Linked DNA regions of Homo sapiens. The protein of the gene in region 2 interacts with the protein of the main gene of each other region in a pairwise test. Each region holds a gene or a part of one and is shown on either strand. Other genes may lie near its edges.

What was found.
Region 1: the proteins of SFSWAP (region 2) and CFAP20 interact in binary tests that used the Homo sapiens proteins (3 or more experiments, as listed by UniProt).

The regions. Positions count from the first base shown.
Region 1 is NC_000016.10:58,126,382-58,135,100, reverse strand, and holds the start of CFAP20 (cilia- and flagella-associated protein 20), read left to right. Parts: upstream 1-5,719; 5' UTR 5,720-5,985; coding exon 5,986-6,069; exon of another isoform or gene 6,070-6,217; intron 6,218-8,719. UniProt on the Homo sapiens protein: Cilium- and flagellum-specific protein that plays a role in axonemal structure organization and motility. Microtubule inner protein (MIP) part of the dynein-decorated doublet microtubules (DMTs) in cilia axoneme, which is required for motile cilia beating.
Region 2 is NC_000012.12:131,706,583-131,714,996, reverse strand, and holds the start of SFSWAP (splicing factor, suppressor of white-apricot homolog), read right to left. Parts: upstream 3,908-8,414; 5' UTR 3,768-3,907; coding exon 3,550-3,767; exon of another isoform or gene 927-3,549; coding exon 757-926; intron 176-756; coding exon 44-175; intron 1-43.

The DNA.
Region 1 (8,719 bases), on a different chromosome or scaffold from region 2:
GCAACATGGCAAAACCCCATCTCTACCAAAAATCACAAAAATTAACTGGGCGTGGTGGGCTGCACCTGTAGTCCCAGCTACTCAGGACTCTGAGGTGGGAGGATCACTTGGGACGGGTAGACAGAGGTTGCAGTGAGCCAAGAGCGCACCATTGCACTCCAGACTGGGCGACAGAGTGAGACTCTGTTTTTAAAAAAAAAAAAAAAAAAGACACACTACAAAACAATACTAATACAATCTAATAATCTGGGTCTTATTGGTGTAAGAACTTTTAAATAGACCAGTGGACTAGAAGAGAGTTCAGGAATAGATACATTGTATATATGGAAACTTAATATAAAATAAAGGTGGCTTCATAAGCCATTCAGGAAAAAATAGTTTACATATGACATTAATGAAACTGGCTTACTCTAAGGAGAAAAATAAAACTGATTTCCTACATGCCACATGCAAATACTATCTTTGGAAGAACTGAAACATAAATACGTAATATAAATCTATGCAGTTAATATGCAAAGGTGACCTAAGGGTGGGTAATAACTTCTTTAAACCTCTAAGTACAAACCATAACACAAAAAAGAAAGGAAATAATTAAATAAAAATTAAGACTTCTGTTCAATGAAGACATTGACAAATGAAATTAACAATTGACAGACTGGGAAAAGATGTTTGCAGTGTCTAAAACCAACGAGGGATTCTTAATACCTAGACATACTATTTTCTATTGCAAATCAGTAAGGAAAAGAAAGGTACCTCAATAGAGACTTGGGCAAAGGATACCAAATGGCAATTTTAAAATAAAGAATGGGCGGGCGCTGTGGCTAATGCCTGTTATGCCAGCACTTTGGGAGGCCGAGGCGGGCAGATCACTTGAGGTCAGGAGTTCGAGACCAGTCTGGCCAATATGGTGAAACCCAATCGCTACTAAAAAATACAAAAACTGGCCAGGCGCGGTAGCTCATGCCTGTAATCCCAGCACTTTGGGAAGCCGAGGCGGGTGGATCACCTGAGGTCGGGAGTTTGAGACCAGCCTGACCAACATGGAGAAACCCCGTCTCTACTAAAAATACAAAATTAGCCGGGCTTGGCGGCACATGCCTGTAATCCCAGCTACTCGGGAGGCTGAGGCAGCAGAATCTCAGGAGGCTGGAAGTTGTGGTAAGCCGAGATCACGCCACTGCACTCCACTCTGGGCAACAAGAGCACAACTCGGTCTCAAAAAAAATAAAAAGTACAAAAATTAGCCAAGCATGGTGGTGGGCACCTGTAATCTTAGCTACTCAGGAGGCTGAGACAGGAGAATCATTTGAACCTGGGAGGCGGAGGTTGCAGTGAGCTGAGATTGCACCATTGCACTCCAGCCTGGATGATAGAGCAAGACTCCGTCTCCAAATAAAATAAAAATAAAAGAAAGAAACTTAAATGCCTATGAGGAGATAAGCCAGCATGTTAGTAATCAGACAAATGATAAATAAAATGAATTGTCATTGTATACCTATCAGACTGGCAAAGTTCAGAAAGTGAAATAACATCCATTATTGGTGGTTGGATGTGACTGCAGAGATCCTCATGCATTGCTAATGTGAGTGTAAATGGGTACACTATTTTGGAGAGCCATTTAGTCACATTACACGTTGTATATGCATAGATGAATACCTAGAAATTCTGTTACTGCATGTGTATGCAAAAGAAATTCTCGGCCAGGCGCGGTGGCTCACGCCTGTAATCCCAGCGCTTTGGGAGGCCAAGATGGGTGAATTACCTGAGGTCAGGAGTTCGAGTCTGATCAATATAGAGAAACCCCGTCTCTACTAAAAATATAAAATTAGCTGGGCGCGGTGGCACACGCCTGTAATCCCAGCTACTCTGGAGGCTGAAGCAGGATAATCACTTGAACCCAGGAGGTGAAGGTTGCAGTGAGCCAAGATTGCGCCATTGCACCTTGCACTCCAGCCTGGGCAACAAGAGTGAAACTCTGTCAAAAGAAAGAGAGAGAGAGAGAGAGAGAAAGAGAGAAAGAAAATTCTCATATAGGTCCTTAAGAGGACAGGTATAAGGATGTCCATTACTGCAGGCATGGACAAATAAAATGTGGTTGGGGCACACCTGGAAAACTGAGCAGCAGTTACAAGCAATGGATTAGATGCACACTGGTACAATGGATGGATCTTAAAAGCCACAGTGCTAAAGAATGTGCTCAGTATGTGTCTATTGTATCTTTATACATATATAAATATTAGAGATGGGCTAGAGTGCAGTAGCTATTCACCATCTTCATTATAGCAGCACTGCAGCCTCTACCTCCTAGGTTCATGGGATCCTCCTGCTTCAGCCTCCCCAGTAGCTAGGACTACAAGTGAGCCCTGTGCCTGGCTTTTTTTTTTTTTTTTTTTTTTTTTTTTGAGTCAGAGTCTTGCTCTGTCACCCAGGCTGGAGTGCAGTGGCATGATCTCGGCTCACTGCAACCTCCACTTCTCAGGTTCAAGTGATTCTCCTGCCTCAGTCTCCCTAGAAGCTGGGACTACAGGTGCCCACCACCACAACTGGCTAATTTTTGTATTTTTAGTAGAGGTGGGGTTTCACCATGTTGACCAGGCTGGTCTCGAACTCCTGACCTCAAATGATCCACCCACCTCGGCCTCCCAAAGTGCTGGGATTGCAGGCATGAGACACTGTGCCCGGCCGGTTTTTTTTCTTTTTCTTTGTAAAATGTGTGCTGCTTATTTTTATTTTATCTTACTTTTTTGAGACAAGTCCCACTATGTCGCCCAGGCTGGTCTCAACCTCCCAGGCTCAGGCGATCCTCCTGCCTCAGCCTCCCAGTTAGCTGAGACTTACAGGTGCCGCCACTGCGCCTGGCTGTGTCTGTCTTAAAACAAAACTTCCATGAATGTCTGTATGTATTTTTTAACAATTGGATTGAGGAAGGGGAATGACTTAAGTCAAATGGATAGGTGAGGATGGCAAGACAGGAAGACATGAACAGACAATACACAAAAGTACACAATTATTTCTGAATAATGGCATTATGAGTGATCATAATGTTATTTTGCACAGTTTCCTCAATGAACTTAATATTAGATTACATTAATCAGAAAAAAGTAAACTTGGCCGGCCGCGGTGGCTCATGCCTGTAATACCAGCTCTTTGGGAGATGGAGGGTCACAAGGTCAGGAGTTCTAGACCAGCCTGGCCAACACAGTGAAACCCTGTCTCTACTAAAAATACAAAAAATTAGCTGGGCATGGTGGTGGGCGTCTGTAGTCCCAGCTACTCAGGAGGCAGAGGCAGGAGAATTGCTTGAACCCAGGAAGCGGAGGTTGCAGTGAGCCAAGATCGCTCCATTGCACTCCAGCCCGGGTGACAGTATGAGACTCTGTCTCAAAAAAAAAAAAAAAAGAAGAGAGAAAAGAAAAAGAAAAAAAAGTAAACTCACATAAAGTAATTAGACTCAGAACCTTTCTGGAGGGGAGCAATCACAACCTTTATTTTCCTCTATGATTATTGTTTATTTGGTTTTCTAGTTCTAGACCCAAAATTGGTCACTTTTTTCCTAGAAAATAATTTATCTCATACAGATTTTCAAGGGGGTAAAGTTGTGTGTAGCATTTGAATAATCATCGTAATAACTCTTCTACAGTCAATTCTTTCTTTAATATGTCTGCTTTTCTTAACTGGAATTTTTGCCTAAGATATTTTTAACAATTTAATAAAAATCAAAGGATACATTGTTCATCAGTCTAAGGTATAGCCTCTCCAGAAATCATCCAAAAATGACAGTTTCATATAAAAAGTTTTTGACTTTCTACAGTAATAAGATTCATATATTTTCTCACTATGTCCAGAAATTCTGGCTGGATTATTTAGGGGGCTGATGTGAGGACTGAATGAGTTAATACATGCTAAGGTGTTAATATATAGTGCCTGACACATAGTAAATGTTCAACTTACTGCTATAATGGACAAAAACTGCTAATAATGATGATATTAGCTACAGACTCCTTTTCTATCAGCCATACCACCCAGCACAGGCCTAGGCAAAAAATACAATATTTAGGTAGATGCTCAGTGACTATGTCAACATTTGAGATTTCCCTTTACACTCAAAATGTAGCTTACTTTATGTTTTCTAAAATATTCTAGGTATTAATTAATTTATTAATTTATTTATTTTGAGACGGAGTCTCACTGTCACCCAGGCTGGAGTGCAGTGGCGTGATCTCAGCTCACTGCCAGCTCTGCCTCATGGGTTCACGCCATTCTCCTGCCTCAGCCTCCCGAGTAGCTAGGACTACAGGTGCCCGCCACCACGCCCGGCTAATTTTTTGTATTTTTAGTAGAGACGGGGTTTCACCGTGTTAGCCAGAATGGTCTCGATCTCTTGACCTCGTGATCCACCTGCCTCAGCCTCCCAAAGTGCTGGGATTGCAGGCGTGAGCCACCGCGCCCAGCCGTATTAATTTTTATTTTTATTTTTCAGAGACTGTGTTGCCCAGGCTGGAGTGTAGACCAGCCTGAGTTTGAGACCAGCCTGAGCAACACAGTGCAACCCTGTCTCTACAAAAACAAAAAATTAACGCAGGCATGGTGGCCCACGCTTGTAGTCAGCTACTCTGGAGACTGGGTGGAAGGATAGGCTGAGCAGGGGAGGTCGAGGCTGCAGTGAGCCATGATCGCGCCACTGCACTCCAGCCTAGGTGACAGAGCGAGATCCTGTCTCAAAAATAAATAAACAAATAAATAATAAAATAAAAATCAGCTGTTGGTTCAACTCAACTTTCTTAATTTTGTTTATGAATGTCTGCCTTTATCTTAATGTTCAGGATTATTTATTTATTTGAGACCGGGTTTCGCTCTGTCGCCCAGGCTGGAGTGCAGTGGCGTGGTCTCGGCTCACTGCAGTCTCCTCCTCCCGGGCTCAAGGGATCATCCCACCTCAGCCCCCCAAGTAGCTGGGATTACAGGCGCGCGCCACCACGCCCGGCTGATTTTTGTATTTTTTTGTAGAGGAAGGGTCTCGCTTTTTTGCCCAGGCTGGTCTTGAACTCCTGGACTCAAGCGATCCGCCTGCCTCGGCCTCCCAAGGTGCTGGGATTTCGGCCGTGAGCCACCGCGCCCGGCCTAATCATGTTCGGGCTTTCTTATTTTCTAATCAATGTATTTAAGGCGATACATTTTCCTCAGAGTGTCGCTTTGACTGCATGCCACAATGTGAATAATGACAGGCAGGGATGTATATTAGGCGCTTATCACAGTTAGTGCTGAATATTGGTTAGTTCCCTTTAACCTTATCCTGTACTTGGCCGACAAGCATGTGTTGGGCGTCCGCCCGACGCCAAGAAGCTCTTTTTCAAAGCCGCTTTCCCTGCGCAGCCCCTGTTCTCCCGCGCGGGCAACTACTCCCGGCCTGGCCGTCACGCCCCCTCACGTCACTCACCGCCCCGCCACGTTCTCATGACACCACGCAGGTGCCAGCAACGAACTCCAGAACCCTCCGTGCCCTTCCGCTTTTCCAAAGGCATCTCTGGGACGACGGCAAGAAAAATAGTTCCTTGACAACTGAGCTCTTTTCAGGAGGAGGCGGGACCAGGCGGGACTTACAGGCGGAACGAAACGGAAGTCCGTGGTCCTTGTAACGGGATTGGGCCCCGCGCTCCCGGGGGGCGGGCTCAGATGGGCGGAGGGATTCATTTTAAGCAACGGGCGGCCCTCCGCCTCCATTGAAGGCGGGGAAATACCGCGGCGCGGACGGTAGTTGCTGTGGTTTCCGTTCTGAGCTCGCAGCTTAGGAGCTGAAGATCGCGGACTTAGCGTTGCCGCGTCCGAGTCCGGCCATCAGTGGCTGCAGATCCGGAGGCCAGGAGCTCAACCACCCTTCTTCGGAACAGGGCCGGCCTGCTGCTGTGCCCTCGACGCTCGGTGCCTGTATCTACTCCGGGGCCTAGGTCGGCTCCGGGGGCGGCTTAGGAGAAGGCCGCCGGCGAGATGTTCAAAAACACGTTCCAGAGCGGCTTCCTCTCCATCCTCTACAGCATCGGCAGCAAGCCTCTGCAAATCTGGGACAAAAAGGTCGGGCTAGGGGCGGCGACGGGGCGGGGTGGAGGGGCTGCACCCCCTCCTCGTCCGGGGGCTGGGGACGGGGAATGGTTGTGTCGAATTGGGGCCTGGGAGAGGCCGAGAGGACGCTGCTGTGCCTTGTCCCCAGCCTGGCGGGACTGGGGCGCGAGGTGGGGGCGTCGTGTAAGCAGCGGAGGAGGTGGGGGGGGGGCGGTGCATGTGGGTGGGCGTGGCTGAGATCTAAGTGTCCTGCAGCTGTGGTGTGGTTAGGACCGCGACCCTCGCTGCTGTCTTGACTTGGTCGGTCAGTCCATTCTTTTGAGCCACTGTTTCCCCACCAATATAATGGGGTTGATGGTGCCCATCTCGTAGCATGAAATGCACGAACTTATTTGAAGGAGCTTTGGGGATGTAAAGATGAAAGGACCTGCTATTCACGAATTCCAAATATTTACTGATATCCGTTTTTGTGCCAGGCACGGTGCTGGGCACTAGACACAGAGCCTTTGTTCAGGCACCCTTACAGAGGAGCAGACAGAAAGACTCCGGCCAAGCCAGTGATGTTTAAATTGCATTCATTTGCTCCCTTCCTCCCACTGATCCCAAATAAGTCAGAATTCAGTGGCCCTTGGCACCTGCTCCACACTCACTGTGACTTGCCTGTACTATGCCCTCGGTGCCTGATTTCTCCATCAGGAAAACTGCAGAATGCTGACAGTCAAAGTCTTGTTTGGATTAATAAACTCAGAGCCAAGTACAGGCCTCATCTTTATTCAGGCATCCACTAGATGATATGTGTTTGGCCCCACGAGATGATGAATCTGTTTTTTGCAGATGTGAAGAAAGATCTAGCTGTCTATGAATTGGTCTGCATTTTATTACTTTGGTATTTCGTTCTTCATGCAAATTCCCAGGCAATCAGCTGTACTATTTCTTGAATATAAGTTACGGGAGGCACTCCAATGTGAAATTTAAGTCATATTCTTAGTACTGCTCTCTGGGAGAATGGCGAGTGTGGGTATGCCGAATGCTGCTTTTTAGAGAGATGCATGTGGAATAATCTCAGTAGGATTTATTGGTAATGAAGCCAAGAATTTTGAATTTTATCTTGGAACACGTCTCTGTATTCCCTTATCCACACATGAGAGCTCTTTATGAGGGCCACATAAAGTTGGGAGAGAACATGAGCAGCTTTCTGCCTGTCACCACTAGGGAACTCTGCGTTCTGAGGGCAGCTTTTAGGATGGTGTGTCCATAGTGTTACTTTCATAAGATAGTTGAAAAATCTGAATATAATGAAGTTGGGCCTTTGTGTATGTAAAATCTGCCCATCTCTTCTCTTTCAGATGATTCTATCCACAAGCTAGAGCTAGTGCCAGAGTACAGGAAAGCAGTTCCTTAACGTTGCTGCGTTACTGAGGTTTTTAGTTTCATGTATTTTTTCACAATGGAATAAAGCATTGTAAACTGTAAATTGCATCTGTACAAAGAGAGCCCAGGGTGCCTGGGAACTCCGTAAGGAGGTTGGCTTCCCAGCTGTCACTTGACTCAGTTATGGGCTGTCAGAAGGCATGAAGAGAGGGGGGCCCTCTGTGCCAGTGGAATTTGGAAACTGAATTGTAACAAAGTGTCAGTATAAGGCAATTGAAATCGAGAATGGGACTTGACCTAGGAGGAGAGGTTTTCAGAGCAGATAGAGAACTTACTAAAGCTGAAAGAATTCCAGTAGTAGGGAGGCCTCAGAATTTCTGTTACGAAACTTGTATCAGTTTTCCATTTTAACCCTTCTGGGCTTGATCTTGTGTGCTGTGTTTTATTTTTCAAATGAGGCTTTTTGAATAGTCAACATGTTTACCCAAGAATATAAAAGCATAGTAACCATGGTGCACTGTGTCCCTTAACAACGCCACTAGAGGTCGGATGGTACCCTAATGACATAAACACGTGTGAAAACATTGTTAAATCGATTGGCATGGTTACTTGGAGTAAATTAAACAGACATTTTGGCAAAACCTTTAGAACACTCATTTCAAGCAAAATCTTCACAACGGTAAAAGCTAATTTTGTGTTTCTAACTCTTCTTATTTAGACTCAATTGAAAAATATTTAGAATTGAGGATTTTTCCCCTCTTGGGGCAAGGGAAGGAAAGAGAAGAAAAAGGAAAGTTTGGGGCCGTATCCCTCAGCTTTGTCGTGTGTGCTTTTTCTCAGCTATGTCTGCATAAAGTGCTGGAAATTCAATCCAGTAGGGGGAACACTGGGAATTGATGTACTTATCAAAGATTTATTGAGCGACAGCTTAGTGACAGGCTTTGTGTAGACTTGGGAAGATAGAGAAAATATTTTTCCTGCTGCCAGGGACTAAGGCAAAGTTGTAATAAGGACAGAGTTTGTGGGGAGGTGAGGACTGTCTACATTTAGCTAGACATGACCTTGACTTTTGCCAGTAGGTATATATTGACTGTGGTACCTATTTATAGTTATTTTTATTTCAGAAAACTTTGTTGTTTTCTTTCATGAGTATATATAGAGAGAATTTCTGTTCGGTTTCTATGAAGAATCTTGAGAAATTTGGTTTGACTTTTGTTTAGGCTCTGTCTGCATAGAAGTGAACGCTGTATTCACAGTACCAGTGAATTTGCAAGCTTCCCTTTTGTGAAGA
Region 2 (8,414 bases):
ACGTGTAGCCCTACACCAGCAGTCCAGGCAGCTCCCCACTCACCTCTCTGTTTGGAAGGCTCCTCCTCCTCCGTCGGCTCTGACGGGTCGTAATAGTCGCTACCGTAAGTGAACCCCACGGCATTGTAGCTCCCATCCTCTGCTAGTGCTTCACTCAATCGCTTGTATTCTTCCTCTTGAATAAAAATGAGAATTTTATCAACAAAAATAGAAAATTACTGAGAAAAACTTTATATATTTCTAAAGTTGTAGCTATCAGTAAAGCATACAACATACTTTTTTCAACCTACTTTTGAGGTAAAATAGTTTTAAAAATTCACACTTTATATCTATCATTATGTACTTTTGTCAGTACATGTTTACCCACAGACAGCTGAATACACGTCTTTTGTGGAAAATTTCTTCCTGCTGAGAAAATTTTGGGATTAAGAACTGTATTAAAGACTGTTACGGCAAAGACAAGAACATCAATTTTATTTATACGATACTGTTAAAGAAGAACAGTTAAAGAGTTTGGTTTTTGTTTTTTTCAAATCCCAGTCTGCCCTCAAAAGCTGGGAAAATTCTTTGTGGCTCTATATATAAACTATCCTGAGGTCCTCTCAGAACGCAAAGACTCCTGTTTTTCCAATCCACTGGGTACTGTCAAGATAATATCAGAAAGAGTGAGTATAAAAAAATGAATGGGAGTAAATTTTTAAATACTTAAAAATTTTAAAAAGTTTGTTGCTGAAGTAAGTTTGTCTTGAGCAGTACCTTGCCTTGCCTCCTCCTCAAGCAAGTCCGTATGCAAGGCTAAATACCTCTCTTCATCACACAGGGCCTCTATTCGCGCCTCCTCTTCAGACAGCTGATAATCTCTGTTCCACGTGGAATACTCAGCATCGTACTCAGAAAGGTCATGCAGGTGACCACGTCCATCATATCTGTAATGTGAACAAGCTGGTCAATAAAAGGAAATTAACGTCTAGACTGGTGTGCGTGTGTGATGTTTTATATATGTATATATATATACACACACATACTTACCGATTAAAATAAACAAAAATATTAAAACAAGTATAAAAACTCTTCCCAGATTTATATTTAATTTGGATAGTCATATCTCACCTACTTTTAAACTCAAGTTATCTTAACAAACTCTAAATTCCTTTCCACAGTAAGATAACATTTATAACTAAAGGCAAACAATCCATTAATAGCAAAAATGGTACCCACTTCACTGGCAGTTCTTACCATTATGGTTTGGTCAACCATTCAATGCCACTTGCAAAAAATTATTATTTTTTTCTGAAAAGTTAAATATCATAGCTTACATTCACACAAACCAAATACATAAATACCTATCCGTAAGAACCAAACGGTCGAAATTTCCTCGCTTCTTTCTGCTAGTCCCGAACTCTCAGGAGAGATCTTCACCAAAGAAACTTGCGTCCATTGGAGGTAAAATCTTGGCTAGGCTCGCCCCCTAGCCACTTGGCTGAGGAAATAAGTGCTGGGTTACGTGATAGAGAGACACACATACATTGGAACAGTGACATATACATGCAGTTTAAGGAGGTTCACTGGGAACAGAGCAAAACTATTAGAAGATATGGTATCAATATTTCCTTCTGAACTTTATACCCTCAAGGAAATAACATACATGAAGACACTTCCATGTTTCTCTTGCATGGACCAAACAGTAGTTTGGCCAAATAAGTAATGGGAGCACTTTCTGCTATGCTTTTAACATAAAGGATTCAATGAGGATGCTGTCAACGTGTAACTGTCAGATAATAAATGAATGAGTTAGTGAACTTTACTTAAAACACTCAGGTTTAGGGTTTCAAAAACAAATGTAGAGAAACAAACAAAAGTCTGCTTATTTTTTTAATGCTGACTTTTGTAATGGGAACCAAAAATATTAATGTAGACCAAAAAAGACATTTACAGGAAAAAGGCCCAAAATTCCAAGGTAGTCAAGTTACTGCATTTCATTAAATTTCAAAATTAATTGGATTTTGATGTAAACCTCCTTAACTTACAAATGTAGATTATTATTAAAAATATTATACATGTACATGTGCGGCGTTTGCTCCCCACCAGTTTTGGAAGACCTAACTCAAATCATGTACAGAATGATAGGAAAACTGTACAAAGAGCTCAGACTTCATTGCTTACCAAACTTTAATGATAAATAACACAAGTGACACTTTGGAAAAGCAAGCCTGACAACTCAGGCGACACATTCAATATAAACCATGGTGTGAAGGCACAGCACGCTTGAGCACAGCACGGAGCCATCAGATCCAGACATGATCTGATTCCGCGGCCCTCCCTTCACCAGTTCTCGTTTTCGAGCTCTAATTCCAAAAGGAAACGTCAGGGATGGAAAAAGGCCTATTTGGTCATTAATGTGTCCATTCTGGCCAGCTCAGAGGTCATCCCTACAGTCATGCTCCAGGGCTATGAAGAATCCAGTTTTAATGGTCTCAAACGATGGGCTTTCTTCACGTGGAGAGACTATTCCACAGTTTAATGGTTGGTCATGGTTAGCTTTTCAGTCCGGGCCCCAGAAGTAGCCGAACAGGCAAAAAAGAAAAAAAACCACCCCACAACAACCCCAAAACCCAGAGACGAGGGGAAGGGGGATTGAAAAAATGGGAAGAAAGAGGGGAGCAAACCACCTACATCATGTAATGTTATCCTTTTCAAATCAAACGCCTTTAGAAATCCCTAATCCCAGGCCCCCACTGCCCATAATCGCTAGACACCCTCGAGTGACGACCTAAAGCAGGTTTGATTTGAAAAGAAACAACACATCTATATCCCAGCTCCACCCTTCAGTCTTAAGAGACAGTGAAACCAGCCCTAAGAACACTATCTCTTCCAAGAGCAAGGCCAGGGTCCGCACGAAGTCAAGTGGCCACCAACTGACGGGCAACTTTGCTCACTACCTCAATCTGTCAAACTCGTCGGATTATCACCGGGAAATCAAACGTCATGCCGGCAAAGTACGGGCGCTCCACTGAGGGCTCTGGGGGCATAACAGGTTAAGGCTAACTCACAGGTCCAAGAGACACTTCTAGCCACTGTCTCAGTGAGCGGCGGTTCGGAAGAATAAAGGCACGCCTCCCAGGGTACCCTCCCAGTACACCGAGCAGTGAGAGCGCGGCAAGTAGAAAAGCAGCGCACGACCCCATGGCATCGCCGGGCGGCAGGCCCAGGTGCACTCAGGAAAAGACCCTGGGCACTGGCTGCTTTCACCGCGCGGAATCGCCAACTGCAGCCCAGCGACAGGGTGAGGGGTCGAGAGGGGCTGCGGGACCAGAGACGATCCCTCCGGAGACGGACGCGGCACGCAATTCCAGCCAGTGCCTTAGGGCAGGTTTCACCGTCCCCCTCCCCACCAGAACACCAGGAGGAGGTGGGGACAGGGGAGGGGGTGTCCCCCAGATCCCCGCTGGCTCCAGAAAACTCTCTGCAGTCCTTGCAGTCAAGTCAACATCAGACGAGATCAAGCGGGTGAGGGAAGGGAAGGATCGACGGGTGGGGAGAGGAACCGACCTGTCGATGAGGATCTTGTGGTCCCCCATCCAGGGGATGAGGTGCTGTCCCTGTTCCTGAGCCAGGGCCCGCTCGTCGTCCCGGAACAGCTTGCAGGCATAGCCGAAAACCAAGAGCTCCACTCGGCTGCCCCCACCGCCGGCACCGCCTGGCCCGGCCTCCTCCTTCGCGCCGCTTTTCCTCTCGGGTTTGGCGCGGCCCCCGCTCGCGCCGTACATGACAGCGTCCCCGGCGTCCAGGCTGGTCCTCTTCTGTGCCGCGCGACGTCCCTGATACCTCCACTTGGCCTACCCCTTCAGTCAAAGACCCCGCATCCCGTACCCAACCTCAACACCGCCGCCATAGCGGGCCACAAAATGGTGGAGGGGCAGCTTCCGGCAGGAGAGCCCGCATTTCCGGCGAGCGGACCGGCAGATTCGCCTAGGCTTGGAGCTCTTTTAGCCGCTAGGAAATATTTTGGCTTTAATTTTCGCATTCAGGTGTGCCGCCACAATAGGCGCTGCTGTATTCAGTGGAAAGTGCAATTTTAATGTCCGTTTTATCGGGCAGCCGTCAGGACGTGGCGAAAGCGCAGCGTGGGATCGCGCGCCGGCTTCCGCTGCGGCCAGTCGGGCGGCGACGGAGTCGGAGGGAGGGGCCCGGCGCGCTCTGGGCCTTGGGCGAGTCCTCGTGGGTGGCGGGTTGCTGCAGCCTGCCACATGTGTGGAGGCCTCGGGTCCACCCCGAGCCTCCGCGCCCCTCACCATGTCCGAGTCGCTGGGGCCGTGCGTGCTCTGCCCAGGGTGGCGATGTCCTTTTCCTTGGCCCCGTTTCCTTCTCCATCCCTAGGGGGACTTGGTCCCCGACCCGCCCACCTTTGAAGGTTTCCGAGGCAGCAGAGGCCCCTGCGCTGCAAATCACTCGCGGGTGGCGAGATTTCGGAAACCTGAGACCCTTGTCGCCGGGAGATGGTCTGGCGGGGCAGGGAGACCCCAGTCTGGAGACTGGCCACCTGGATACGGTGCAATTTTGCTTGGTGTGTTTCCTCCTGGGCCGCAGTTTTCCCATCGGTGGTTCCATTAGGATCTTTCGGTCCCTTTTAGCTCAGTAATTTCAGGTCAGACAAAGGGCCTGGAGTGCAAAATCTTAGGCTTTGGGATGGGATGGGATATCCCCATGTTTGCCCTTGAGTGGAAAACGATGACAGATCGTCTCCTTTCTGGGCCTCAGATCCCCTCTCCATAAAAATGGAATCTTTCTACCAGTGATGTTGAAATGAGATAATGTATATGAACCTTTAACTGATTTTTGGAAATTAAGAAACAGGCAGTTCCCACCAAACGTCTTTTGTTGTGGTTTCCCCTGACTGGGTCATGCTTCTGTCTTCATTTGCCAGGCTCCTTACCCAAGTTTAACTCAGTCATCCATTTCTCCACCTGGCCTTATGTGTCTACGTTGTCTGGAGTTTCCCCTCACTGGTGGCTAACTTGTGCCTTCCGATTTGTCTGTGTACCTCTCATCACCACCTTAGGTTACATCCTGTGTTCAGCATCCCACCAGAATTAGCTTTAAGAGATCAGGGACATTGTTGGGGTCACCTTAGCATCCTCAGCACCTAGAATGGTGCTTAGCACACTGTGGGCCAAATACTGGTTAATACCTGTAGAATGAGCCGGGCCAGCAGCTGAGCATGCGTGGCCAGGCCATCATCTTCCTATCTAACTCTACAAGACTGCTCTGCCACTGCTGAGGAAGATGTATGTGTCATGGTTACTTGATAAAAACACTGTTGTTTGCCCCCAGGCATTTACTAGTTTGTTTCGGTGCTGGGCTCCCTTCAAGCTTTCCCTTGGGTTCAGGTGTGGGGTGCTAAAGCAAATAAGGAGGCCATTAGCTTGAGATCAACTCTGTAACACCAGCTCCTATGCAAGCAAACCAAAACCCAATCAAGTAATTTTTCTGCTTCCGTGTTGGGTCTATAAAAGCTTGCTGCTCATGCTGCTGAGTGGAACTCTCTGAACCTCTTCTGCTTCTGCATGCTGCCTGATTCATGAATTGTTTTCTTGCTCGAATAAACTCGAATTTGTTTTGTGTAAAGTTTCTCTTTTAACAGTTCTGGTGTCAGAAATGGGATCTGAAGGCCCCCCTATTCCCTCAATGATGACCTCTGGGAACAGTGACTAAACAGATGCAGGTGCTTCATTGTGCAGGACAGTTCTCTGTATAGCCTTGGGCCTACCCACTTCTCCCTCCTTTTCCTTTGTAGTTTTCAAGAGTAACTGCATAACGAGCTGGGATGCAACATCCTGAGATAGGGAGGGACTGGCTGAAGTAGCCCAGGCTCTGTTCCAGTTCTCCCCTAGAAATAGAAGGTCCTTCAACACTTTAGCCCAGTGATTCATGTGACATGTGGTATGTAATCTGGGTGGGCTGCTCTTCGGGATCTCTTATCTGTGGTGTAAGTGAGGAATACGCAGTAGAGATTTCATCCACCTGGGCAACTTTCTGAGCTTTGGGGGGATTGGCTCACAGTGAGTCCTAGTCTTCGTCTCCTACCACCTGTCTATAGGTAATAAATGCACTACATGTAAATTGTTGCTTATGAGAATTCAGAACAGGTTGGTAACCAGTGCCCGTGGGCCTGCTTCACACACTGAGCCATTTGTGCTCAGGGCTTCTCACTGCACATTTGGAGGCCGCCACTTGTAGGCCCTGCTTGGATACAAACTCTACAACTTGTGTCAAATTCTTAAAGTTTATTTGAGCATTTTTGATCTGAGCTGGGTCCAGAAGTTACAACAGAAACTGGGACTGGATCCAGTACAAGGCCTATGGGAGCAGGACTGAGTCCAGTAGGAGGCTTATGGTAGGAAAGGGTATGAGAATACAGGGAATGATGCCTTCATTTGGATCCAAGGAGTCTGAAACTCCTCCACCTGGAACTCCAGCCAATTTCATGTATAAGAACCTATGAACCCAGAGTCTGCACTTTTCCAGAGAAATGGGTGAACCTACCAAAGGTAATCTAAGAGTTAACAGTGGTCAAAGTGAGGAAGTTTTAACCTAGATAAAATTGTTCACTTGCAAGACATTAGAAAAGAAAGGATATTTGCAGGACTAGGTCTGAAAGGAATAAAATAAAATATTAAGAAAGGACAAAAAACACCTCAGAAACAAAAGGATGTATTTTGATTGACATGCAGAGGCTTCTAAAAGGTTAAATGAACCAAAAATTGCCTTTCTAAATGACTTCTTACAAAAAGCAAATGAAAAACTTAAGCAGCTAATTTATGAGAAAAAAAATTGTATTTTGATGTATTGAACTCACTGTACATTCTATCTTTCTATCCTTCTCTGCCTACTCAGAATCTCCTAACTTCTTATCTCAGTTACCTTCCTACCCCAAAGACAAAAAGAAAGCTAAACAAATGCCTTATATAGTTAGGCCCTCAGATTAATAAGTCTGCTTCTTTAATCACTGTTATGCCTTGTTCAGAAATCTTTTGAGTTCAGAGCAACAGTGAAAGGTTTCAAAGGAAAGCCCCCAGAAATTTTCTTGGAGGTAAAAAATTCTCCTGGAGTATATGATCCATGATTCCTTGATCTTTCCCAATTTATTCATATGATACTGGGACTGGTGATACTTGAAAATGGATGGCTGAGGTCAAATGGGAGGTACTTGAGAAAGATATCAAAGATCTAACCATTCAGTCTTTCAGGGATGGACTAAAAACCGGCTAGGGAAATCTCATATGTCAAAATAAAGATCACAAGATCTTAAATTTGGAAAGGAGAACTTTATTTCTGAGAAGAGTTGCAACCCACAGCCTGGGAAGCAGACCCTCTGGCTGAGACAGAAAGTAGGCACTTTGAAGGAAGAAGGGTGGGAGAGGAGTTTTATGCTAAACAGGTTGGCTAAACATACATATTTAATAGGTTATAGGAGGAGCTATGAATATTTGTGAAAGGGGCTTGCTAGGTTGTGTGGTAAGCAAACATTCATGTTACATGGTCCCAAGTTCACTTCAGGGTGGAGACTTCACATTAAAATGTAATACAATTAGTCTGTGTAGGTCAAAAGGTGAAACTTAGGATTGTTTGAGTGTGGAAGGTCAAGGCTGCAGTGAGCTGTGATTGTGCCACTGCAGTATAGTCTGGGCGACAAAGCAAGACCCTATCAAGACCTTGTCTCAAAAAAATAGGTGAATAAATAAGATTAAAGAACTGTAAAAACCTAAGAATAAACATGCAAATGTGTGTTTTGTAAAATTGTTTTCAACTGACACATAATAATTGTACATATTTATGGGTACAGTGTGATATTTCCATTGCATGTATACAATGTGTAGTGATCAAATCAGATAATTAGCTTATCTATTGCCTCATTTATCATTTATTTGTGCTGAGAACATTCAAAATCTGCTCGTTTAGCTATTTGAAACATACTATAAATTGTTAATTATAGTCACCCTGCAGTGCTATGGAACACTAGACTCATTCCTCCTAACTAGCTGTACTTTTGTATTTGTTTTTTATTTATTTTTATTTATTTATTTATTTATTTATTTATTTATTTATTTATTTATTTGAGACAGAGTCTTGCTCTGTCATCAGGCTGGAGTGCAGTGGCACCATCTCGGCTCACTGCAACCTCTACCTCCCAGGTTCAAGCGATTCTCCTGTCTCAGCCTCCCAAGTAGCTGGGACTACAGGTGTGCGCCACCATGCCCAGCTAATTTTTGTATATTTATGTATTTTTAGTACAGATGGGGTTTCACCACGTTGGCCAGGATGGTCTCATTCTCTTGACCTCGTGATCTGCCCGCCTCGGCCTCCCAAAGTGCTGGGATTACAGGCGTGAGCCACTGTGCCTGGCCGACTACTTT